Linked DNA regions of Homo sapiens: region 1 is linked to region 2. Evidence: fine-mapped expression QTL. A gene starts in region 2. The other region holds a variant in brackets. All regions are shown on one strand. Distances are between the middles of the regions. Region 1 holds the start of LOC105370101 (a long non-coding RNA gene). Region 2 holds the start of GJA3 (gap junction protein alpha 3).

Region 1 (8,192 bases), 43 kb before region 2:
CAGGACCAGGCACTGTTGCTCATGCCTGTAATCCCAGCCCTTTGGGAGGCCGAGGTGGGCAGATCACCTGAGGTCAGGAGTTCAAGACCAGCCTGGCCAACATGGAAAAACCACATCTCTACCAAAAATACAAAAAACAAAATTAGCTGGGCATGGTGGCAGGTGCCTGTAGTCCCAGCTACTCGGGAGGCTGGGGTAGGAGAATCACTTGAACCTGGGAGGTGGAGGTTGTAGTGGGCTGAGATGGCACCACTGCACTCCAGCCTGGGCAACAGAGCAAGACTCCATCTCAAAAAAAAAAAAAAAGAAAACGGAGAAGAAAATTATCTCATATATATATGTATATTAATATATACATATACACATACATATATACGTACATATATATATATTCAGGAAAACAGGCTTCCTAAAGAAAGCAAATTGTAGGCAGGAGAATTGCAGTGTTAGAAGTTTATGGATATGCAAAGCATCTTTTCTCCAATGGGCCCACAGCACTGTAGCTGACTTGCTTAACAAGCAGCATTTATGGTCCGTTAACCACCCACTTCTCCTGAAAACAGAAAAATCATTACTGGATGGTGCTGGGGTTACAGTCCTATTTAGGTTATTGTGACAATGTCCCTACACTAGCATTGCATCCTCGTCTCACAAGACACTCCCTCTGGGGCTACTCCTGGCCTTATTTTTTTATTTTTTATTTTTATTTTTTTGAGATGGAATCTTGCTCTATTGCCCAGGCTGGAGTGCAGTGGCGTGATCTCAGCTCACTGCAGCCTCTGCCTCCTGGGTTCCAGCGATTCTCCTGCCTCAGCCTCCTGGGTAGCTGGGATTACAGGCGCTCACCACCACACCTGGCTAATTTTTGTATTTTTAGTAGGGATGGTGTTTTGCCATGTTGGCCAGGGTGGTCTTGAACTCTTGATCTCAGATGATCCACCTGCCTTGGCCTCCCAAAGTGCTGGGATTACAGGCATGAACCACTGCGCCCGGCCTCATTTTTAATTATAAATATGTATACTATTAATGGCATTTGCCCCTTTATATCGGGTATGGTTATAAAAAAATAGTGCATTATAGAGACCATAGAAAATAAAATAAAGGACTAAGAACTGTGGCTCATGTCTGTAATCCCAGCACTTTGGGAAGTCAAGGCAGGAGGATAGCTTGAGGTCAGGAGGTCAAGAGCAGCCTGGGCAACATAGCGAGATCCCATCTCTACAAAAAAAAAAATAGTCCCAGCTACTCTGGAGGCTGAGGTGGGAGGATGGCTTGAACCCAGGAGGTCAAGGCTGTAGTGAACTATGATGGGGCCACTGCACTCCAGCCTGGATGACAGAGAGAGACTTTGTCTCTTTAAAAAAAAAAAAAAGAAGGTAAAATAAATAAGAATCATCTGTAATTCCAGAAATAATCATTGTCACTTCATTCTAGTCTTTCTTTAGGATCTATAACCATGTTGTCCCTACCTGTCTGGCTTTTCACATCAACCCTGTGAAATCTGCTTGGGGAACTAGCAGCAAGGACAACACTCCACCTTTGAATAACTGAAGCAGAGCTTAATGAAGAGATTACTCACCGGTCATCTAGAGACCACAGGGACAGTGCAGGGACTGTCAGAAGGGGGGACAGAGTGGGCAGCTCCCTTTGCTCCCTGCCAGGGCTCCTGGGGTGGGTAGGGCCGCCACAGTTCAGGCGGATAGTGGAGCCCCTAGTGGTGTCGGAGGACTGTCCTGTATTTTGGTAACTAAGTCAACAAGGCCCGAGAAAGTCCCCTGAGGCTGGATTTGGCCCATGAGCCTTCAGTTTGAGACTTTTGTGGGGTACTTTTTCTTCTTCCTTTTTAGAGACAAGATCTTGCTCTGTTACACAGGCTGAAGTGCAGTGTGGCATGATCGTAGCTCACTGCAGCCTCAACCTCCTGGGCTCTAGTGATCCTCCCTCCTCAGCCTCCCCAAGTAGCTGGAACTACAGGTGTACACAATGACAACTGGTTTGTTTTTTGAGTAAACTTTTTATTGACATGTAATCCATACACACAAATCTAATAAAGCCATTAAAAACTCCCATTTTTCTATTTTTTAAATGTGACCTGAAAAATTTCTTAGAGTTGAAGTTAATTTTAAAAATGAAAATAACTTTTATAAAAATTATGAAAACAACATAAACTCACTTTAGAAAAATCAGAAAATAGAGATGAGTATAAAGAAGATAGTTGAAATCAAAGTAACCTTTAAGTTAGTGATGTCCAAAGGGTTTAGACTGTAAAGGACCAAATAAAGAAGGTAGGGGCTTGAAGCCCCATAGAGTAACTCTACATTTGGTTTAAAGAATCAGGAAAGTTCTTAAGTTAAAGTTTCCTGCATTAGTTAATTTCAGGCATTAGTTAAAATTCCAGGATGAAGTGTTTGGGGGGACTTTTGAATAATTTTGATGTTTGTAACCATCGGTGGATATAATCTGTTTTGCGTAAAGCTTAATTCTTTAATTAAATGAGTTTTTAAGAAACTCTTTCTTTTGAGGACTATTGTTTTTAACTTCATAAAAAGAAATTATTAAATACACTATTTAATTTTAATAGATATGGTGTATGCTCACATCTGTAATCTCAGCACTTTGGGAGGCTGAAGCGGAGGATTGCATAAGCCCAGGAGTTCAAGACCAGCCTGGGCAACATAGTGAGACCTTGTCTCTACAAAAAATTATAAAATAAAATAAAATAATAAAATAAATTGCCAAGCACAGTGGTGCTTGCCTGTAGTCCCAGTTAGTAGGGAGGCTGATGTGGGGGAGGCTGAGATGGGAGAATGGTTTGAGCTTGGGAGGCTGAGGCTGCAGTGAGCTGTGACTGCTTCACTCACTCCAGCCTGGGTAACACAGCAAGACCTTCTCAAAAAAATAAATACACTACAGTAAAAATTTCTCCAATAGACTTATGTTATTGTCAAATATGGTAAAAAAAAAAAACAAAAAAAAAACCAGACACTTTCTAACATCAGGAGGAGCAGCATTTAAAATATGATAGTCTTGCAAATAAATGAATAAATGATATAATTCTTTGTTATGACTATTACTAGCTGTGGTGGTTTTAAAATATGCCCACATATTCTTTTTTTTTTTTTTTTTGAGGCAGAGTTGCACTCTGTCACCCAGGCTGGAGTGCAGTGGCACCATCACCATCTCACCTCACTGCAACCTCTGCTTCCCGGGTTCAAGCGATTCTCCTGCCCCAGCCTCCTGAGTAGCTGGGATTACAGGCAACCGCCATCACGCCCGGCTACTTTTTGTATTTTTATTAGAGACGGGGTTTCACCTTGTTGGGGTTTCACCTTGTTGGCGAGGCTGGTCTCGAACTCCTGACCTCAAGCGATCCACCCACCTCGGCCTCCCAAAAGTGCTGGGATTACAGGCGTGAGCCACTGCGCCTGGCCACATTTTCTTTTGAACTACCAGTGAAAATAGCTCTATTGAATCGGGGGTGAGGAGTATCAATTTTCCTACAACTTCTGTGTCCTGCTTTATTGACCAGCCGAGCATCAGTGACATAAATGGGGGGCCTTTCCGTTCCAAAGCAGATATTCTGGGCTATCTGACCTAACTCAGAGGAGGCAGCCTCACCATCCCACACCTGTCATCCTAGCGCTCAGGCCAGGCCCCTGGCGGGGAGCCTCCAAGGGATGACAGCGTGGCCCGCCCGAGGCCACAGGGAGGTGGGCGAGCTGTCACCTTCGATGGGACAGCCCGGGCTGCGTCCTGAGCACCCGGCCTGCCCAGGTGGCCTGGATCCTCGGCGGGGTCCCCATCCCTCTGCTCCGAGTGCGCCGAGGGCCGCGTGGAGCCCGGAGCGCCAGGGAGGGAGCCTGGAGGGCCGCCTGTCTTTTCGAGCTGCGCTTCCAGGGACTTCGCGTTTGTGCCTGGCGGGCTGCGGTTGGAAGAAAAGTGCCAACATGGCAGCTCCAGGGTCAGGCCCCTTCTTCCAGGAGGCGTTTCTCAGCCACACCAACGCGGCACTTCTTTTCCCTTTTGGCACAGAAGTGAGGAAGAGCAGCTGAGCTGGTCTCGGTCTCCCAGCTCCTGCAGTCTGAGGACCCCGGGATGCTCCAGCCAGGGCAGACCCGCGCGGGGGGTGCCCTTCCCCCACCCCCTTCCCTGCGGGATGCCCCCTTCCCTCGCCTCCCCCGCGGGGTGCCCCTTCGCTTCCCTCCCCACCCCTTCCCCGCGGGGTGCCCCTCCTCCCGGTGTCGCCTCCTTTCAGGTGCCTGCCCCTCCCCCATGTGTCTCCGCCCACGTCCGCCCCACCCCCACG[C/T]GTGTCGCCCCCGCCCCGTGTCCTCCCCCGCCCCTGTGGAAGGGAGGCTGGGGCTCCCGGGACCAGCAGGGAAGCAGCTGGCAGAGAACGTTGAGTGTTCTCTCTGCCAGGGCCTTCACCACCCTTTTCGGGGCCCTCACCCCGACCCACACCGCTTCCATTCTTGGGTGCAAAGGGCCTTCCTTAACAGTCGGCGGCAGCTCTGGGGCCGGCGCATTTTTTTCTGTGGGGGACACCCGGCACAAGAAGGGTGGAGGAATGGGGCTGCGCGTCACTCCCACAGCTTCTTAGAGAGCCGTTCGCAAGGAGGACCGAGTGTCACGTGAGTGAGCTGGAGGAGGTCACGTTACCTTCCTCCTGTGAGAGGCTCAAACACAGCTCAGGATTTTACCAGTATGGAGAGAAGAAACCTTCAGGCGGGGCGCGGTGGCGCTCCTGTGGCCCCAGCTACTCTGGAGGCCGAAACAGGAGGATTGCTTGTGCCCGAGTCGAGGCTGCAGTGAAGCCGATTGTTTCACTTTACTCCAGCCTGGGCAACAGAGCAAGACCCTGCCCCGACCCCCAAACACACACACACACACACACACACACACACACACACACACACAGAGAGAGAAAGAAAAAGAAACTTTCGGGAACCGGACAGCTTTTCTGTGCACTGGAAGGCACTCACCCCCCTGGCCTGGTAGACTCCTACCCATGAATCTGATGTCAGCTCAGACGTCTTCCTCCAGCTGCCTGTAGGACGCCTAGACCAGAAAGGGCGCCTCTAGATGCCCTCCTAGTTCTCAGGCCTTTTTCTTCATAGCACGTGTCACCGTTTGTGAGAACAAGTGATTTCTATGATTGAGAACTGTCTCCCCTTCTCGTCTGTGAGCCCTGTCAGTTCGGGGTGTCTGATTCTGCTCCCATGCTCAGTACCCAGAGGCTGATACATAGTATGCACTCGATAAAAAAAGGTTTTTGAGTGAATGAATCAATGTATCTGATCCCAGCTCTGCCTTTTACTAGCTCTGTGACACACTCAGATACTTAGCGTCTCTGAGTTTTACCTTCCACATGTGCACAGTGGTGCTAAGTGTTAAATAAGATTTATGGGAGGCCATTGAATTGGGCTGAGCTCCTGCACTAGGCCCCAGTAGGCCAGACCAAAATGGAATCACTTGTGCTAAGTGCCACGTAATCAAACTGAAACTTAAACAAAACAGGAAAATCCCCCACCAGGGCCAGTTTTCCTGAAAAAATAGGAGACTACCAGCAACCAGTCAAAAGGGGGCCAGTCCACTTGAGCCTGCATAAGAGAGGTTTCCTCCGCTTAAACTCATACAAGGAAATGTGGAGGGGTCCAGGTTGTTGGCGTTTTGAGCAAAGAATTGAACAAAACGCACAAACAAAGCAAGGAAAGAAGGAAGCAACAAAAGGAGAGATTTATCGAAAATGAAAGTACGCTCCACAGGGTGGGAGCCGCTGGAGCATAGGGGCTCTTTTTACAGAATTTTCTGGGGTTTAAATACCTTCTAGAGGTTTCCCATTGGTTACCTGGTGTACACTCTATGTAAATGAAGTAGTGACCTGCAACCAGAGGCTGAGGTGAAGTTACAAAGGTTACACCCGATGCAAGCCTCTGTTTGCAAAGTGAAGTTACAAAGTTACAGTTCTATGCAAAGGAAGACTTGGCCCACAATCAAGCTGATTGGTTGTGGGAAGCGACCAATCAGAGGCTGAAGTGAAGTTACAAAGTTACAATCCTATGTAAACGTCTGATTGGCTGCCCTCAGAGACACTTTCAATTTTCCATCTGCCAGGCAGAAAAGGGTGGGGGTTTGCAAAGGGAGTAGCCTCCGGTTTTTTGTTTGTTTTTTCTTTTTTGAGACGGAGTTTCACTCTTGTCGCTCAGGCTACAGTGCAACGGCGCGATCTCCGCTCACTGCAACCTACGCCGCCCGGGTTCAAGCGATTCTCCTGCCTCAGTCTCCCGAGTAGCTGGGGTTACAGGCGCCCGCCAACACGCCAGACTAATTTTTGTATTTTTAGTGGAGACGGGGTTTCACCACGTTGGCCAGGCTGGGCTGAAACTCCTGACCTCAGGTGATCCGCCCACCTCGACCTCCCAAAGTGCTGGGATTACAGGCGTGAGCCACCATGCCCGGCTACCTCCGGTTTTTTTGTTACTTAGGTGTGAAAAGTTGGGGTTTTCCTTTTGATTTAGTTCTAGGAAGTCAGCGTGAAATCGGCCTTAGGTTCCCTGCCTCCAGACCCTATTCTCCGCCTCAGAAAGTCACCCAATGATAACCAATGCACTTTTCTCACCACACGATTTCCTCATTCCTGCTTGAGCTGCCTTACCAAAGCCGATTGTTCTGCAACACCCAGCCGAGTGCCTTCTGTTTTGTAGTCTGGAGGCTGCCTGTTTCATACATTGCTAATAAGAGTCAATTAAATCTTTAAAACTCAATTTGTCAAAATGTTGTTCTTTGGTGTCAGAGACCAATACTGTAGGGAATTTGTGTTCATTGACTGAGCTCAAGTACATAGAACAGCTGGAGGGAAGAGACGCGCAGGGCAAGGTATGAGGTGGGGGCTGCAGGTGCACCACATTCCCACAACTTGGAAACTCTTCCAACCTGCTTGTTCAAGAGCTTTTTTAGAGCTTGATTTCTAGTCCCCTCCCCTTCTCACAGGTCTAGGGGTGAGGCTGAAGGATCCAACCTCCTACTTACCTGGTCTTTCCGGTGACCAACCCCATCCTGAAGCTATCTAAGGGTTCACCCTAAGTCACCTCAGTAGCATAAACTCAGATGTGATCAATAGGTGCTTCATTATGAATAACAAAAGACACTACTATCACTCAGGAAATTCTAAGGGCTTTAGCGGCTCTGTGCTAGGAACCAGGGACAAAGACCAAATATATTTCTCTAAATGTACCCTATCATCCTAATGGGCTCAAGGTGGTATCTTATTGTGGTTTCGATTTGCCCTTTCCCCAGTGATTACTGACATTCAGCATCTTTGGTGCTTATTAGCAATTTGTATGTATTCTTTGGAGAACTGTTTATTCATGTCCTTTGCCCATTTTAAAATTGGGTTGTTTGGGTTGTGCGTGGTGGCTCCTGCCTGTAATCCCAGCATTTTAGGAGGCCGAGGTGGGCAGATCACCTGAGGTCAGGAGTTCAAGACCAGCCTGGCCAACATGGTGAAACCCCGTCTCTACTAAAATTACAAAAATTAGCAGGGCATGGTGGCAGACGCCTGTAATCCCAGCACTTTGGGAGGCTGGGGTGGGGGAATCACGAGGTCAAGAGATCGAAACCATCCTGACCAACATGGTGAAACTCCGTCTCTACTAAAAATATGAAAATTAGCTGGGCATGGTGGCACGTGCCTGTAATCCCAGCTACTCGGGAGGCTGAGGCTCGAGAATTGCTTGAACCTGGGAGGCAGAGGTTGCAGTGAGCCGAGACTGTGCCACTGCACTCCAGCCCCAGTGACAAGAGTGAAACTCAGTCTCAAAAAAGAAAAAAACCAAAAAAACAAAAATTGGGTTGTTTATTTTTTTGTCATTGAGTTTAGGAGTTTTTTGTTTTTTGTAGTTGAGGGTTTGTTGTTGTTGTTGAGTTGCTTATATAGTCTGAATATTAAACCCTTATCAGATATATGATTTACAAACATTTTCTCTCATTCTGTGGGCTGCCCTCTGTTGATAATGTCCTTCGATACACAACAGTTTTTACTTTTGATTGATTTGTCTATTTTTCTTGTTGTTTGTGCTTTTGGTGTTGTAGCCAGGAAACCACTGATGCTAAATCCAGTGTCATAAAGCTTTCCCCTTGTTTTATTCTAAGAGTTTTACAGTTTTAGCTTCTACATTTAGGCCTTTAATTTTTTT
Region 2 (8,000 bases):
GGCAATTTCCTCATATAAATCCAAATGACATCCTTCAGGAACCTTACTCATTATCGACAGAAGAAATATGGAATCTTAGCATTTTGGCAAGGGATGAACCTTAGAAGTGGTCTAGTTTATGCTCCTTATTTTACAAACTGGGAAATGGCAGCTCAGAGAGGGTCCTGAGACTTGCCTAAAGTTGCACAGCCCACAGTGCTGACACCAGCACAGAAGTGCCCAACCTCCAACTCCTGGCCCAACTTCCCTTCCCCTCCCACACCACTTCATGGGCGATGCAGCAGGCAGACTGTTCAGCTTATGACACTATGTATTACATGCCTTTTGCATTTTATTATATTCTAACATACTGGAATACATATGTTTAGAAATGTGGGCTGGAGTACATGTTAAGCTTTCACTTTTTTTTTCCAGTCCAGACTGTCTCAAGGGGGGTATTTTTATCTTTTATAAAAATGGTTAAATATTACTGATATGCTAAGGACAGCCCAATTACTTCATCACAAATTTGAATTATCTTTTTTTTTTTTTCTGTCACACTTATGGCTTACTGCAGCCTCAATCTCTTGGGCTCAAATGATCCTCCTGCCTCAGCCTCCTGAGTAGCTGGGACTATAGGTTTGTACCACCACACTGGGCTAATTTTATAAAAAATATTTTGAAGTGACTGTATCTCACTATATTGCCTGGGCTGGTCTCAAACTCCTGGGCTCAAGAGATCCTCCTGCCTCAGCCTCCCAAAAAGTGCTGGGATTACATGCATGAGCCACCACACCCAGTCAGAATTATCTTTTTAAAGTAAATTCAGATATTTTTACTCTTGCTTAGTGAACAAAATCCCACAACCTGATAATTATGGTATTTTATTATTCCACTGATATTACTGATAAAAATTACATCTGTCAAAATATTTTCTATTTTTTTGCAGAAATAATTTCTATAGTATTAGTATGATTTCACTTTTCTTACTCAAATCTACTTCTATTGCTGTGTAACCAGAAATTGCTTCTATGTTCTAGAATAAAAGATTTATTTTAAAATCAACAGGAAATGGAGTTTCAGGAATAAATAAGCAATAATCCATGGAGATAATCAGGAGGTCTAAATGTAAAAAGCTAATTAATTTTTATATCTAGTATCATTAGTTTGTTAACAGTAAATTTAAAGCAAACCAATTCTTCAAATTAAATAAGACACATAAGAGTGTGGAAACTATTCACATCAACCATTACTTTTGGAGATGTACAGGAGTTTTAAAAAAGCAAGCAGTAGGCTGGGCGCGGTGGCTCACGCCTGTAATTCCAGCACTTTGGGAGGCTGAGGTGGGTGGATCACCTGAGGTCAGGAGTTTGAGACCAGCCTGTCCAACATGGTGAAACTGTGTCTCTACTAAAAATACAAAAATTAGCCAGGCGTGGTGGCGCATGCCTGTAATCCCAGCTACAAGGGAGGCTGAGGCAGGAGAATCGCTTTAACTGGGAGGCAGAAGTCGCAATGAGCCAAGACTGTGCCACTGTGCCATTGCACTCCAGCCTGGACAAGAGCAAAACTCTCAAAAAAAAAAAAAAAAAAAAAAAAGAAAAAGAAAAAGAAAAAAAGCAAGCAGTAGAGTACTAACCTAGTTATCATGAGGAATTTTCCACCACTGTAGGAATGAAAATTAAGATGAAACTTTATTATTTTTATTGCCTTTAAGCATTATACAGAAATTGCAGAAACATACTGTTTTTTAGAGACATATATGCTGTTGTCACATATATTGGATTTTTTCCCTCCTCAATTCAGTAAACATTTATTATTATTATAAAACATTATTACCTATTGTGTGTGGCACTGTGCCACACACTGAGGACAGCAAAACAATTAAGATCCAGTCCTCACTCTCAGGAGATTCATTTGCAATCTATGAGAGAGGCAGAGTGGCAAAAAACAGATCAAAATGTAAGTACTACATAGTACTGGGAATAGCTACCATCCAGCGGAGGGAGGAAGAAGGCATGGTGGTAGACGCCTGTAGTCCCAGCTACTCGGGAGGTTGCAGTGAGCCGAGATCGCACCACTGCACTCCAGCCTGGGTGACAGAGCGAGACTCCATCTCAAAAAAAAAAAAAAAAAAAAAAAAAAAAAAGGCTGCGATAAACGTAATTTTTCGTTTCAAATGTAGTGTGTACACGTTATTTTAGCTAAGAGAAATGAATATAATAAGTTAAAATGTGAGTAACATTCAAGAAAACTGGGTCAAAAATATTTTCCTTATTGGCAAAAAATTTTGTTACCCGCCATTCTTTTAAGACAGCTTTCAGCCAGTTAACGGTTCCTGGTTAAGAAACAGTACTGTCTGATTTGTTAGAGTAGTACCGTTTCGTGAATTACTTTCCACTACAGCAACACATGCATTGCCCTTATGAGATGCTTATCTCGATATGAACCAAACTGCTGAGCAGGTGGAATCTGTGCCAAACTAGCTGATGTTTACTTTGAACACACTGATATTCGGAAAATAAATCCCTCTTTTTTCCTCTTTAATCTTTTAATGTTTGTCTTGCACATGGATGGACCGCCAGTGAAGTGATGCGCACATCATAAATCACCATGGTTTTTAATTCCTGGGTGATGAGACCCATAATTCGCTTGTCAGCTGTTTGTATAGAATCATTTTTAAATGGCATGTTTTGGAGACATCTTGATAAAATAAAAACTGGAGTTCTAAAGTTGCAGTCACATATTCACGAACCGAGAACTCTACATGGTAGGATGAATTTTGCTCACTAGTGTGGAGTCGGCAACAAAGCAAATGCAGCCGCGTCACTGCCGTTTGTTTTCTCAAGTCTCCTACGGGAAGGGGCTCGGACAGTGCTTTTCCACTCCTCTGCAAATTCCTTATAGTTGAACACATCATAACAAACATACAGGTCGAGAAATCTGGTCGTGGCATTAATAGCTACAGTGTTTCTTAAAAATAAAAAGTTTTAAAAAGTTTCTGAAAAAAATGTAGGCGAGCCAACCTTGTTTCTAAACAATCCCAACAGGACTTTTAGGAGCACGGCGATGCTGAATGCCCGTGGACGGCTGGGTGCGCGCCGTTAGCTGGCGCGGTGACATCTGCTTAGAGTTTTCAAGCATTTCAGCATCGCTAGGAGCCCTACAGCCTGACGGTCCGGGACAGCCCGGCTTCCTCCACCCGAGGGGGAAAACAACCCCAGGAAAACAACTTAAACTCGGCCTTGGACTGTCCATCAAGGGAAGCCAAACGAGGCGCTGCTCTCCAGACCTCCAGGAGCAAAGGAGGAAGATCAATTATTCCAAAAGTTTCTCACAAATTTCCCGAGCTCCCCACAACTTTTTGAAGAATCCTGAAAGAATCCTAGGGGGCTGGGAGCCGCACACGTGCCGGGGCTCGGCTTCCCAGCTCGGCAGTCTCAGCCCGCTGGGCTCGCCCGGCAGCTCCGCTGCGCCGCCGACCCGCCCGTCCCCGCCCCGCGCTGCCCTCGGCCCCTGTGCCTGGCCTCCGGGGCGCCCGGCCCGCCTTACCCCGCTCTGCCGCGGCGGCGACCCGGGTGCGTTCCTCCGGAGCAGGGCTCCCGGCCGCTCTGAAAAGAATTCCTTTCACACGTGCGGTGCTGCTTCACGCGTGCGCCCCGCGCCAGGGCCCGACCTCCCCGCCCTGATCGCCATCCCTGCAGCCCCAGTGTGCGCTGCGCCCGACGCCCCCAAGCTGCAGCTCAGGACGCCGCGCCACGCCCCCGCCGCCTCCGAACAGCCCCGCCCCGCGCGCTTCCCAGCACGCACACCTACCGCCCCCGCATCCCTACCCTGTACGCGCAGCCACAGCACTCGCCCGCGTCCGCATTCCACACCCTACCCCGCGCGCACGTCCATGCCTAGCGCCTGCATCCCCATCCCGCACCTGCGCGGGCCCTGGGGATGTGGACGCGGGGGCTCTTCCCTGCCGCCTACGCACTCCGGGGCATGCCCGCGCGGGACGTGAGAGGAGAGCCGAGGGCTGTTGGGGCGGGCCCGACCCGCTTGCGGGGCGCCCACCGCACGCAGATGCGCCAGCCCGCGCCCCGCTCGCGCCTGTCCTGGGCTTCGCAGGCCCGGCGAGGTAGCTGCTCTCCGGGCGCTCCCACGGTCGGAGGCGCGTGGGCGTCGGGCACCTAGGTCTCGCCCGCCTGCAGCCGCCTGGGGACGCGGGTTCCGGACGGCTGGCGCGGGGCGGGGCGGGGACCACCGAGCAGGAAGTCCCCGCGGAAGCGCCGCCGGGCACAGCGTGGGTGCTGTCGAGGAGTGGCGCCCGGGCGGGGCGGGAGGTTATAAATAGCGGCCGCCATCCTGCTTCTCTTCAGACACACTTAATTTAGCCGGCAGGCACACGGATGCTTATTTTTAAAAAAAGAACTTGTTTTATTGCGCTCGAGGTGACCGGGAAGGTGTCCCCGCGGGTCACTCGCTCCATCTGGTCCTGGAGACGAGATGCCAGGGCGAGGCCTAACCTGCCTGCTGGCGCCCAACGAAGATTTTAACGTTTTCTGTTCCCTTCGGGGTGGTTTTACCACGCTTGAGAGGGACGCCTACCGCGGAAGGCCGCGGACCGAGGGCGGCATCGCGTCCTTGTCTGCTGTCTGGGCACAGCCTAGAGAGGCCGCGGGTCCCCTCCCCGTCCCCCAAGGTCTGGAGTGGGGTTTGACCAGCCTGGGATATTAACAAATATCGGTGGACTGCATTTCGGTGATCATTCCACAAGCTGAAATGGCTTCAAAATCACCTTTATGAGTAATAAGTTTATTCCAGGAATGTGGCAAAATGCAAGTCTGATAGTTTTCGTGTCTTCATGGAGCAGCTTCCGTCGGCTGCCTTCGTTAGCGTTTAGATCTACTCGGATTAGCAGTTGGCTTGCCCTGAAAAATGCGTTTGTTCTGCTGAGATCTGAATTTAAAGTTATCCCAAGGAGGAAAAACTAAGCTCCTAAAGGCGCATCTAAAATATCTTCTCCCTTTGGGAACTTTGCGGTGTATGTATGGAGTAGGTAGTAGTTACGGAGACTTAGTTTTTAATTTTTAATTGAAAAATGCTACCTTTGAAGGTCTTAAAATACTTGAATATTTTTCTCATTTAAAACATTTTCTCTGAGAAGCACAGGAATAGTTTTTTTTTTTTTGTTGATCACAAAAGCACTAGGAATTGTTAATATTTGTAGTCTGTTTGCCAAATGCTATTATTGGTATTCTGAGGATAAAAATGGAAATATAATATTGTAATAATTTTAAAATTTTTATTAAAATATAGATTTTAAATTATATTATGTAATTCGAACAAATATTTTACATATATGTTCATACAAGCATTATTTACTATAGCCAAAAGGTGTCCATCAATGGATGAATGGATAAACAAAATGTATTGCATACCTACAGTGGAATATTATTCAGCCTTAAAAAGGGAGAGCCCCATCACATGCTACAACGTGGACGAACCTTGAGTACATTATGCTAAATGAAATAAGCCAGTCACAAAAGTCACAAATACTGTATGATTCCATTTACATGAGGTACCTACAGCAGTCAAAATCATAGAGACGGAAAGTAGAAGTGTGGTTACCAGCAGCTGGGGCAGTGGGAAACGGGAAGATAGAGTTTCATAGGTACGGAGTTTTAGTTTGGGAAGATAGAAATAGTTTTGGAAGCAGATGATGGTAATGGTTGCATAACAATGTGAATGTACTTAATGCCACAGAACTGTACACATTAAGAAAGGTTAAATGGTAAATTAAAGGTTATGTATATTTTACTACCATAAAACAATTTTTAAAGTGGTATTGTGTAAAGACCAGCACAACTAAGAAGCTAGCAGTTTCTTTACACTTGTCATACTGTACAATTTCTAGGTAGACAACTAAGATGTTCATCTTATGGTTTAATGTTTAGTTGTAAAGGTTGTTTGCTTCTCATTTGGTTCCAAGAAAGAGTATTTAGGCCAATTTCAGGGAGAAATATGTGTATAGATATATTCATATGTCAAACTGATTAGTGCTGAATGTCACATTTCCATATTCTAATAACATTTCTAGCAAAGAAGAGGACACAGTGAAGAGAGAATTGCCCGCATTGTCATTGTCTCTTTCTGAGCCTAGAACGCCTAACACTTGGGTGTGGAGAGACTCAGCCTCAATTCACTTTCTAGCAGCCACTGAGATGTGCTTGCCTGGGGTGCCCCCTGGCAGGCAGGGCTGGAACTGCTTTCCAGTACCCACACGGACTGTGAACGAATCTTTCTTTGTGCTTTGTGTACAGAATGGAAGTTCAACAAATATTTGTTGAATGTGTATGTCCTTCCAATACGCAGCAGCCCAGAGCAAACGTGGTAATCTTGTGTGTGTTCATGTGAAAGCAGAATTTAATGGTGCTTTTAAGCACCAAAGTTTAAGATGCACGAGAAAACTGTATCTCCATTTTTTCCTTTTCGTTTACAATTACTTGTATAAGCCAGGCACGGTGGTGGCTCACGCCTGTAATCCCAGCACTTTGGGAGGCCGAGGCGGGCGGATCACATGAGGTCGGGAGCTTGATACCAGCCTGGCCAACGTGGTGAAACCCCGTTGCTACTAAAAATACAAAAATTAGCCGTGTGTGGCGGCACCTGCCTGTAATCCCAACTACTCAGGAGGCTGAGGCAGGAGAATCACTTGAACCGGGGAAGCGGAGGTTGCAGTGAGCTGAGACTGCACCACTGTACTCCAGCCTGGGTGACAGAGCAAGACTCCATCTCAAAACAAAAACAAAAAAACAAAAACAAAATTACTTGTATAGACCGTCACTATTCCTTACTTACTATGCTGATTGACAATGTATAGTATTTCAGTTACTCTGCGGGCTATAAATAGCTCTAATAGCACTTAAAAAAATGAATCCAGCTGGGTGTGGTAGCTCATGCCTGTAATCCCAGCACTTTAGGAGGCCGAGGCGGGTGGATCACCCGAGGTCGGGAGTTTGAGACCAGCTTGGCCAACATGATGAAACTCTGTTTCTACTAAAAATACAAAAAATTAGCCGGGCATGGTGGGGTGGTGCGCACCTGTAATCCCAGCTACTCGGGAGGCAGAGGCAGGAGAATTGCTTGAACCTGGGAGGTGGAGGTTGCAGTGAGCTGAGATCGTGCCACTGCGCTCCAGCCTGGGCAACAAGAGCAAAACTCCATCTCAAAAAAAAAAAAAAAAAAAAAAAAAAAAACGAATTCCAGCAATCCAACTTTTATTTATTGAACTTCTCCTCATACAAGGCCTTGGGCTGGGTGTTGACGGATGGGAAGGTTCCACTTTCTCTACTCAGAGAATTCATTGCGCCCAGCTCTGTGCCAATTTTTGTCCACAGGAGGATTTTACAATCTGTTGTTTCTGAATCACAAAGTATTAATTAACAAACAGTTAGCGGGTGTGGTGGATCATGCCTGTAATTCCAGCACTTTTAGAGGCCAAGGCAGGAGGATTGCTTGAGCCCAGGAGTTCGAGACTAGCCTGGGCAATACAGTGAGATGCTCCCCTACCCCAACCCCCCATCCAGTCTCCACAAAAATATTAAAAAATTAACCTGGCAAGGTGGCTCGTGCCTTTAGTCCCAGCTACTCAGGAGGCTGAAGTGGAAGGATTGCTTGAGCCTGGGAGGTCGAGGCTGCAGTGAGCCATGCCCCTCCACTCCAGCCTGAGTGACAGAGCAAGGCCCTGTCTCTAAAATAAAATAAAATAAAAATAAATAAAATAAAATAAAATCCATGGGATAATTTCTATGAAGTGATTGCAACTTGGAGAAAAATATAAACAAGCAGTGTTTATTTCTTATCTCGCATGTGGAAAAATGAGATTTGCATGTCTCATATGGGCTCTGCAGGCCTTGGAAATGTCCCCTGTGGAAATTTTCTGGGCTGTGCAGTTAATACAACCTGTATCCAACTCTCGTCGGATAATTTATTTAATTCCAGAAAATTGGGTAGTCAGAATGGAGGGTGGC

What was found. PIP is the estimated chance that this variant, and not a neighbour inherited with it, causes the effect.
Region 1: its variant is fine-mapped to the expression of GJA3 in whole blood (TOPMed, PIP 0.94).

What each region holds. Positions count from the first base shown.
Region 1 is chr13:20,114,702-20,122,893 of GRCh38, forward strand. It overlaps LOC105370101 (a long non-coding RNA gene), which reads right to left and starts at 5,088. Exons shown (of 3, transcript XR_941719.3): 1 at 5,004-5,088. RefSeq lists an enhancer at 3,568-3,617 and a silencer at 3,788-3,847. The variant C/T (reference allele first, on the strand shown) is at 4,307.
Region 2 is chr13:20,157,359-20,165,358 of GRCh38, forward strand. GJA3 (gap junction protein alpha 3) reads right to left here and starts at 3,694. Exons shown (of 2, transcript NM_021954.4): 1 at 3,532-3,694. RefSeq lists silencers at 3,425-3,514, 3,675-3,754, 3,985-4,344.